Regions from separate parts of the Homo sapiens genome. Here region 2 is linked to region 1. The links come from fine-mapping of genetic effects on gene expression. A gene starts in region 1. The other region holds a variant in brackets. All regions are shown on one strand. Distances are between the middles of the regions.

Evidence for each region.
Region 2: its variant is fine-mapped to the expression of TCN2 in fibroblasts (GTEx, PIP above 0.99).

Annotation. Positions count from the first base shown.
Region 1 is chr22:30,604,564-30,610,079 of GRCh38, forward strand. It overlaps TCN2 (transcobalamin 2), which reads left to right and starts at 2,611. Exons shown (of 9, transcript NM_000355.4): 1 at 2,611-2,832. The coding sequence starts at 2,769. It also overlaps a transcript of PES1 not described here. RefSeq lists enhancers at 2,397-2,976, 2,479-2,773, 4,759-5,053, 4,828-5,107.
Region 2 is chr22:30,715,480-30,720,479 of GRCh38, forward strand. All of the region lies in intron 1 of OSBP2 (oxysterol binding protein 2), which reads left to right. Among named protein-coding and RNA genes, the nearest start is that of MIR3200, 14 kb to the right of the region's middle. RefSeq lists an enhancer at 1,369-2,568. The variant G/A (reference allele first, on the strand shown) is at 1,967.

The sequences.
Region 1 (5,516 bases):
AGGGTGTAGTGAGCCGAGATCATGCCATTGCACTCCAGCCTGGGCAACGAGTGAGACCCTGTCTCAAAAAAAATAAATAAATAAGAAAAAATAAGAAATGTTTCCTGTTGATGTTGCAGCTGGCTTGCAGCTGGCTTTAGAGGTCCCTGTTATCCCAGTCTAGTGGGAGCACAGGCAGACTTTTACTTTCTCATTCCAAGCTAGTTTTCACCACAAATAGAAATCTTGATCTGGCCAGGTGCAGTGGTTCATGCCTGTAATCCCAGCTCTTTGGGAGGCTGAGACAGGAGGATCGCTTGAGCCCAGGAGTTCAAAAATAAAAAAAATAGAAATCCTGATCTAAATGATGTAATCATTTTTGTTTTTCACATTCCCTGACCACATGACCTGAAATAGCACTACCCCTGACCAGTCACTCTATTTCTTTTTTTAATTTTACTTTATTTTTAGGACAGGGTCTCCTTCTGTCGCCCAGACTGGAGTGCAGTGGTCTGATCTCAGCTCACTGCAACCTCAGCCTCCTGGGCTCAAGTGATCCTCCCACTTGTAGCCTCTAGATTAGCTGAGACTTACAGGCACACACCACCATCCCTGGCATTTTTTGGTTTTGTTTGTTTTTTAGAATCAGGGTCTCACCATCTTGCCTAGACTGGTCTCAAACTTGTGGGCTCAAGCAATCCTCCTGCCTTGGCTTCCCAAAGTGCTGGGATTACAGGCATGAGCCACCAGTATTTCTAATATGTATGGGAAATATGCTGTCTTCCTATTCCTACTCCCCCACCCTCTAGCACTGAGTCCAGGTAGGTAGGCAGGGGGGTGTCTCCCTCCTTTACTTCGACACCCTAACTACCTTGGGGATCAGAAGTGACTCTCTGGAAGGATGCTGCTGCTTCTCACCAGAGGCTGACGATAACGAAGGCTATCCTCCATGGCCACCTCCTCCAGGCTGCCTTCCTGGAAATAGGAATCATAATAGTTGTTACTGGAAACAGGCAGAGGGTTGGGGGAGCCAAGGCAGTCCCACCCAGGACCAAGGTGGCTCCATTGCACACACTTCACCATGACTCCCCTGAAGGTCCAAACGTGCGGTTCTGCGGAAGTTGGGCTCCCCACTGGCCTCCCTCCTTCCTCAGAACCTCCAGGGGTGCTCCTCCTAGTGGCCACATCCAGCCTTTCTGACTGGACAACCTATCATTTAAAATTTTCAAGTAGTTCCGTAAACAGACACACGTTGCTGTATTTATTTATGTCAAGGGCTTGGTTTGTGATAAATCAGGCTCAAAAAGATTGTCTTAAAAGAGTGAACCTTGGCAATTTACCATAAAATAATTGCAATGCAGATTGTGCATGGAAATGATTGGAGATATTTTAAGGTCATAGTGTCTTCACAAATTGAGCTGAAAGGGAACTGTTAGGATGATCTTGCCTAACCCTCTCTTCTCACACAGGAAGAACTATTTTAAACTCGAGAGGTTAAGTGACCTGGCCAAAGTCACACAGCCACCACTAGTTAACTCGTATACATTGATTCTCCTGTGGGGCTGGGCAGATGAGGAATCTTTTGTTCTCTTCCCTGTTTGCAGAGATTTTTTTTGAGGTTACTTTCCGAGTTCTGGCAAGTACCCCTGCTTCTGGTAGCTTTGTGTCTCGATTCAATCTCATTCTTTTTATTTTATTTTATTTTTGAGACAGGGTCTCACTTTGTCACCCAAGCTGGAGTGCAGTGGTGTAATCTTGGCTCACTGTAGCCTCCACCTCTTGGGTTCAAGCGATCCTCCTGCCTCAGCCCCCCAAGTAGCTGGGATTACAGACGTCTGCCACCACGCCAGGCTAATTTATGGTTTTTTGTATGTGTTTTTTGTGTTTTTGTAGAGACAGTGTTTCCCCATGTTGCCCAGGCTGGTCTCCAACTCCTGAGCTCAAGTGATCTGCCCGCCTCAGCCTTTCAAAGTGCTAGGATTACAGGTGTGAGCCACCGTGCCCGGACTTAATCCCATTCTTTAACTTGTTTTGTTTTGTCCTCTCCAGGAGGCTCCCAGCCCTTTCGGATTGGTTGAGAAAAGTGGCCTGGCTGGTCTGGGGCCAGCGGCACCCACCCTCCCCTCAATTGCCCAACTCCCCCCCCCCACCGAACTGCCCAACTCCCCCTCCCCAACTGCCCAACTCCCCCACCCCCACAATCCCCTCCCGCCACAACTGAGGGAGGCGGTGCTGAAAAACAGCTGACTCCAGCAATGCTGCTCACGTGACCACTGCAGCTGCAGCTCCCGTTCCACTCCTTGTCCTGGGCTAGGTGGGCACTACCAGGGGCTCCTTTGGTAAGGAGTACCGGGTAGGCACCCGGTCCTGCCAATCCACCACTGGAACAGCTGGGGGGACAGCAGACAGGCACGGTCGGACAGACTTGACAGATCAGGCATCAGGCCCTCTGCGCTGGTCCCGGGCTCTTTAAGCAGGAACGTGAATGGCCTCAAGATGTCTCACATGGTCCCACTAGCCCTCCTCCTCCCTTTGTTCCCTACCTCCAGGAGGGCTGCTCTGCCCTTCCTTCCTCTGTTCTTTGGCCTTATGTTCCCCGCCACCACAGACCTTCCCCCGCCCCACCCCTCTGCAGACTTAGCCGTGCATTGCAGGCATGGAGGATTAATCAGTGACAGGAAGCTGCGTCTCTCGGAGCGGTGACCAGCTGTGGTCAGGAGAGCCTCAGCAGGGCCAGCCCCAGGAGTCTTTCCCGATTCTTGCTCACTGCTCACCCACCTGCTGCTGCCATGAGGCACCTTGGGGCCTTCCTCTTCCTTCTGGGGGTCCTGGGGGCCCTCACTGAGATGTGTGGTGAGTAACTCGCCTCTATCCTGTGCCTCTTTCCTCCTGGGTCCTTAGTGGGGTGGCTAGGGCATAGGATGAGGGAACTTACCTGCCCTTCTAAGCTCCCATAGCAGTTTGGGCTTAGCTGGACCTCAGCATTTAACACATCCTATTGTGATTGATTATATGTTTGACTCCTCACCAGACAAGATCTCCGTTAATTCAGTCATTCGTTCACACATTCATTCAGCGCATACTGAGCCTTTTCTGTGTCAGGCCCAGTGTTAGCCTTTGGGGAACGTGCAAAGCATGAGACAAGTCTAATCCCTGCCATCCTAGAGCTTATGTTCTAGGGAAGGGGGACAGACAAAAGAAATGGTTAGGTGCTCCCACCTGAAATCTCAGCATTTTGGAAGGCTGAGGCGGGAGGGGAGGATCGCTTGAGCTCAACAGTTCAAGGTCAGCCTGGGCAACATAGGGAGACCCCATCTCTACAAAAAATAAAAAAAATTAAAAAATAGCTGGGCATGGGGAAGACTTTCTGAAGACCAAGAGGACACATGGGAGCTGAAACTCGAAGGAAGAAAAGGAGCTGGCAGGAAAGGAGTGGGGGACACACATTCTAGGCAGCAGGAAGTGAGCCTTCGGAGGTCCTGCCTGCTCCAGCTCTGTGCCCCAAGGGGTCTCTTGGAGCACAGTCTCCTGGGACCTGTCTATGAGTCTGAGCTTAGAGGCTCAGGGCTGCTCCTTCAGACAGGAGGCAGAAGGCAGGCTTTGGGAACTTTGGGCCGCCCACGCGCCTTTTCTCCTCCTCTGCACCTAGGATTACGTTGAGCAATACACTTTCACCCCCATGGTCTCTTGAGACCCTGGGGAAACCCTGAGAGGTGGGTGCAGTCATGTCCAGGTGTCAAGTGAAGAAGTCGAGGGTTGGAGGGGCTGAGTGACCCACTCAGGGTGCTCCACCTTTTCCAGAGCTTTGCTGAACTTAGTTTTTAGAACTTGAAGCCTCGTTTGTTTTCGTTTTGTTTTTTGTTGAGAGAGGTTCTCCCTCTGTTGCCCAGGCTGGAGTGCAGTGGCACGATCTTGGCTCACTGCAGCCTCTGCCTTGTGGGTTCAAGTGATTCCCCCACCTCAGCCTCCCAAGTAGCTGGAGACTGCATGTGCATACTACCATGCTTGGCTAATTTTTGTATTTTTTTGTAGAGACAGGGTTTCGCCATGTTGCCCAGGCTGGTCTCGAACTCCTGGGCTCAAGTGAAACTCTTGCGTCGGCCTCCCAAATTGCTGAGATTACAGGCGTGAGCCACCGTGCCCGGCCAGAACTCCAAGCCTCTCATCTGTGTTCCATAAATGCAATCAGACACCTCAGGTCTGGGCCCAGGAACCCCAGCTCTTGGTTCATGTCCGGACAGTCCCCAGGGGAGTTCTGGGTTCAACCAGCAAGAGCTCTTCCTCCTGGCTGATCTGGTCCTCAGCCTTGGACAGTTAGTCCATTAACCTGACCCCACAGGAGCCCCAATCCCTTGGGGTCTGGGGAATCTTGAACTGGGGTTTGGGGTGCAAATATCTGCACTGAGTCACTTAATTGCACCCAGCCTCATTCCTTTATCTGTAAAGTGGGCTAAGAATGCTCCCCTGCCTTCCTCCTCGGTGTAGTACAAGGAAGGATCCCATGACACCTGCTCTCCCAGTTTAAAGCTCTATATGTATGTTGTGAAATTGACAGGGATCGCTGCACAAACGCTAATGCAAAGTGGGCTCCTGTGCTTCCTTTTCTCTTTCTTCTTCTTTTTTTTTTTTTTAATTTTCTTCTAGAGATGAGGTCTCACTATATTGCCCAGGGTTGGTTTCAAACTCCTAGGGTCAAGCGATCCTCCCACCTTGGCCTCCCAAACTGCTGGTATTACAGGCGTGAGCCACTCTGTCTGGCTCCTGTGCTTGTGAATGTCAACAGCAATCAGCCCTTAGCTGGCAGGGCTGGGTTGGTAGGGCGAGAGCTCACCCAAGGCTGCTTTTATTACCCTGCGTGAATCTGCCTGGCCCCTTCCTTCTAAGGAGGTTGCTCTGTGGTTGTCAGTCTCTCCCTTTACAGCTGGATCCTGATCTTTCAGTTTCTAACCCTGTGCTGACTCATCGTGCTGGAAGTGAGAGCCCGGGGTGAGGTCAGGGAACTCCCTTGCGCGTTTCAAGAAAAGGGAAAAGGAAAGAGAGGTGAGGAGGGGGGCAGATGACCAGAGAGACACAGGCTGAGAGAGACTGAGACAGACCCAGAGAGCCTCACACATTGAGTGACAGAGACGGAGAAATGGAGATAGGCACCAAAAAATGGTTCTCAGTGACAGAAAGGGAAAAAAGCAACCCCCCAGTCTCTCTTAACATCTGGTGAGAAACCAGCCATGTGCTTTGGTCTGGGCCCACACAGCAAAGGATTATGTAGGGTTTCATGCTGGTGGATGGTCACCTTATAGCAACAGGTATCTGGGGCTGTCGGGAAAACAGACACGAGGTTGTGGGACCCAGACCCACAGAGATGGAGCTGTTCTAGGAGCTCTGGTCCTCGTTCTGGTCCCCTGGGATATGGCACAGTGAAGGCCACCATCAGGCAGCTGGAGCCCAGCAGCAACTGGGAGGCAGTAAACAGGGACCGAAAGTGCAAGGTTACCTCCGAGGCAAACTACTCTAAGCTACCCTGTGCTGAGCTCAAGTCC
Region 2 (5,000 bases), 110 kb after region 1:
GATCCTCCCACCTCAGCCTCCTGAGTAGCTGGGAATACAGGTGTGCACACCACCACACATGGCTAATTTTTAGATTTTTTTTTTTTTTTGAGGTGGAGTTTCACTCTTGTTGCCCAGGCTGGAGTGCAATGGCGCCATCTCGGCTCACTGCAACCTCTGCCTCCTGGGTTCAAGCGATTCTCCTGCCTCAGCCTCCCAGGTAGCTGTGATTGATTACAGGTGCCTGCCACCATGTCCAGTTAATTTTTTGTGTTTTTAGTAGAGACGGGGTTTCAACATGTTGGCCAGGCTGGTCTTGAACTCCTGACCGCAGGCGACCTTCCCACCTTGGCCTCCCAAAGTGCTGGGATTATAAGCATGAGCCACCACACCTAACCTTTTTTTTTTTTTTTTTTTAACACAGGATCTTGCAGTGTTATCCAAGCTGGTCTCGAATTCCTGGGCTCAAGTGATCCTCCCACCTCAGCCTCCCAAAGTATCCCACCTCAGCCTCCCGAAGTATCGGGATTACAGGCCTGTGCCACCATGCCCAACCACAAGCATCTTTTCTTTCTTTCTTTCTTTCTTTTTTTTTTTTTTGAGACAGAATCTCGCTCTTGTCGCCCAGGCTGGAGTGCAATGGCATGGTCTCGGCTCACTGCAACCTCCACCTCCTGGGTTCAAGTGATTCTTCTGCCTCAGCCTCCTGAGTAGCTGTGATTACAGGTGCCTGCCACCACACCCAGCTAATTTTTGTACTTTTAGTAGAGATGGGGTTTTGCCATGTTGGCCAGGCTGGTCTTGAACTCCTGACCTCAGGTGATCTGCCTGTTTCAGCCTCCCAAAGTGCTGGGACTACAGGCATAAGCCACCACACCTGGCTGAGCATCTTTTCATATGCTTGTTGATCGTTTGTATAACATCTTTAGAGAAATGTCTGTTCAAATCCTTTTTTTGTTTGTTTGTTTTTTTGTTTTGTTTTGTTTTTTGTTTTTTTGAGACAGAGTCTCACATGGTTGCCCGGGCTGGAGTGCAATGGCTCAATCTCGGCTCACTGCAACCTCCGCCTCCCAGGTTCAAGCAATTCTCCTGCCTCAGCCTTCTGAGTAGCTGGGATTACAGGTGCCCACCACCACGCCTGGCTAATTTTTTGTATTTTTGTAGAGATGGGATTTCACCATGTTGGCCAGGCTGGTCTCGAACTCCTGACCTCAAGTGATCTGCCCGCCTCAGCTTCCCAAAATGCTGGGATTACAGGTGTGAGCCACCATGCCTAGCCCCTTTGCTCATTTTTTAATCATTTATTTGATTTTTGTTGTTGAGTTGTAGAAGTTCTTCTTACATTCTAGACATTAACCCACTGTCAGATATATGATTAGCAAATATTTTCTCCTATTCCATAAGTTTCCTTTTTACTTTGTTGATTGTGTCCTTCAAGGAACTTAAGTTGTGTCCTTCGATGGAGTCCCATTTGTCTGTTTTTGCTTTTGTTGCCTGTGCTTTTGGTGTCATATCCAAGAAATCATTGCCAAATCCAATGTCATGAAACTTTATGCCTATGGTTTTCTCTAGGAGTTGTACAGATGTTACATTTAGGCATTTAAATCTATTTTGTTTTAATTTTACTGTTTTTGTGTGTGTGTGTGTGTGTGTGTGTGTGTGTGTGTGTGTGTGTAGAGACAGGGTCTCGCTATGTTGCTCAGGCTGATCTTGAACTCCTGGCCTCAAGTGATTCTCCTACCTCAGCCTCCCAAGTAGCTGGGATTATAGGCAAGAGCCACTGCACCTTGCTGGGTCTTTAATCCATTTTGAGTTAATTTTTGCATATGGTGTGAGATAAGGGTCTAACTTCATTCTTTTGCACAAGGACATCCAGTTTTTTCAACATCATTTGTTGAAGAGACTGTCCTTTCCCCCACTGAGTCATCTTGGCATCCTTGCCAAAGATCATTTGACACAGGGAAAAAATCAAGGCCTTTTGAAAAAC[G/A]CCTACACTAAGGGGAAATGACACATGTTTTACTGTCCAGCTGCAGCTGTGCCATCCAGGACCAGATGGGAAGTTACATCCAGGAAAGTGGACCTCTAGAGTCCCTTCTCACATCTCTAGGCTTTGCTCACTAGCTATAAAGCCCTGTACTTACAAAAAGAATGATTGCCATAGCCTGTAAGAAAGCAGATGGAAGTCAAAAGCAGATCCTTAGGTTGATGACAAAGATTGCTGGTTGAGACTCTTATTTTGACACTTAGAGTCTCCTTATTCATCTTCTATTCATCTCAAATATGTGCCAACATGACTCCCCCTCAGGACTGGCCTCATCTCTGCCTCTCCAGCATCATCATCTCCTGCTGATCCCTTGCTCTACTCTGACACCTCAGTGACAATGGGTTGTGTGTGCATTCTGACAGGCGAGGGTGGGCGGGAGTTAGAATCGAGTCCTCAGCTCACCTGTCCTCCTGGATCAAGCAACTTCAAAACACATTGCCCAGTGGTGATTTAAACTCTGAGGTTAAAGCAGCAGTGGTTTTCTCTTGCTTGAGGGTCCGCAGATGACCAGGCCAGGTCTCCTTCAGGCAGTGGCACTTGGGAGTAAGCTAGGAGGTGTGTCTTCCTGTTGTGATGGCAGAAGTACAGGAGGGTAATCGAGAGTCACAGCATCCCAGCTTGAGCCTGCACACCCTCACTCCATTCCACATTCCATTGGCTGAATCAAGGCATGTGGCCCTGTCCAATATCAGTAGGGTGGGAAGATATCCATTCCCCATTTTAGAGGATCCTACAAAGTCCAGTGGCAAAAGTTGTGCACTTAAAATTGTAGTTCAGGGATGGCAGAAAGAAACAGGAGAAATGCTTCAGTCTGTCACAGCCTCTAACCTCCCTTCTAACGATCACATCCTTTAGCCTCTTTATCTATAGAGTGAGAGGACTAGGCTAGGTGATGTCTGGGGTTCTTTCTATCCTTACCTTTCTGAAAATTTGATGGGAAACCATCTGGAAGGAGGAGGAGGAGAGATGAGATATAAAAGATGACCTGTATGCTTGGCACTGGGCTTGGCACATCAAAGGACTCGGGAAATGTCTGTTGACTTAATGGCTTGGAGATCTGAGTCCAGGAGGCCAGGAATCTGGTGACTGACCTGGTAGGGAAAGAATGGGGGATGCTTTAGCTGGGCCTCAGGTGTTCACTGGCCTTCCTGCCCCTGGGGCCACAGGCCCTGGGCACTGCTGTTGGAGTTGCAACTTTACAACTTCGGAGTTGCAGTGACAACATCCGGGTGCTTGTCTCCCCCTTTTTTTTCCCCCTGCCAGTACTAACAGATTTGTTGCAGAAATGGCCTGGGCCCTTGCTCCTGAGCCCTGGGGCAGCATGGGAACAGGGCTGATGGTGTGTTCTGGTTCTCAGACTTGGGAGCCTTGCGGGCAGACTGAGTGGGGACTTTTTGCTGAGTTGTTCATGCACTGTGACAAGAAAGGCACCTTCTTTGAATTTTTTATTTTCAGAAAATAAAATTATTTTGCTAGATACAGGCATGGAAGCAATTTTCTTCTTTTGAATCCTGCAGTTCTTCTGAGTTTGAATTTATCTGTCAGCTTACTGAGCCTTTGCCTTCTAGAGACGGGATTAGAGTGTTCTTAACCTTGAGCTGATTCCCGCTGTGCCTTCTCTCCAGCCTGTACTTACCTGAGTGCCTCGCAGTCCTCTCAACATTATCCCTGGCTTCAGGCTGCTGCCCTCCTCACTCCCCTTCTCTTTCAGCCTTAGTTTGTGCTCGGTGGCAGTGTGTGTCATTATGTGTGCATGTGCAGCTGTGTGGCAGGACCAGTAGCTCATGTTTTGTCTGTTCCCTCCCAGAAGTCCCAGCCCACAGTAAATCAGTGTTCAGTAACTGATAGCCAGCCACACACTGCAGAGATGTGCCATGAATGGGAAGCTGATTAGATTTTCCAGGGCCCTGGAAAAGTTGCCTGGTGTGGTGGCAGAAGAATCTCTAGGTAAGGAACTTAAAAGTCACCAAGGCCAGGCACAGTGGCTCACACCTGTAATCCCAGCACTTTGGGAGGCCAAGGTGAGTGGATCACTTAAGGCCAGGAGTTTGAGACCAGCCTGGCCAACATGGCAAAATCCCATCTCTACCAAAGATACAAAATAAGCCGGGAGTGGTGGCGCACCCCGGTAATCCCAGCTACTTGGAAGGCTGTGGCATGAGAATTGCTTGAACCAAGGAGGCAGAGGTTGCAGTGAGCTGAGATGGCACCACTGCACTCTATCCTGGGCAACAAAGTGAGACTCTGTCTCAAAAAAAAAAGAAAAAAAAAAAAAGTCACTGAGCCAGAGCCAGGATAGCTTGAGGCCAGGAGTTCAAGACCAGCCTGGACAACATAGAACCCATCTCTCAAAAACAAACAAACAAACAACAAGGGAACAACAACAACAACAAAAAGTGCCATCAAGCCAACCATCTCTCTGTTCATTGACTTCTTCCCATAGCATCTCAACCCCCTTATCACCTCTCAGGTAACAGAGAGCAAACCTCTAAGATAAGCTGATTGTTCCTTAAACAACTCTGAATGTTAGAAAATCCTTCTGTTGAGCTGAGATAGGTTTCCGTGCAACCTCTGTCCTCATTGGGATATTTCTCTGTCCCACACAGCTGGGGTTATCCCTTCCACATGGATGTACTTTTCATCTTCAGAGAGGCTGTCTCAGTGTTACTGTGTATTATCTGTTGCCGCATAACAAATCACCTTGAAATTTAGCACTGTAAGACAACAATAAGCATTATCTCATTGTTTCCATGGATCATGAATTCACCTATGGGTGATTAATTGGGGTGATCCTGAGTGGGCTCAGGATCTGTCATGAGGGCTGCGGTCATTTGAAGGCTTGACTGGCTGGAGACTCCACTTCCATTGTGGCTCACTCACACGCCTGGCAAAATGGTGCAGGCAATTGGCAGGAGGCCTCAGTTCCTCACCCTGTGGATTTCTCCAAAGGGCCGCTCGAGTGTCCTCACAACATGAC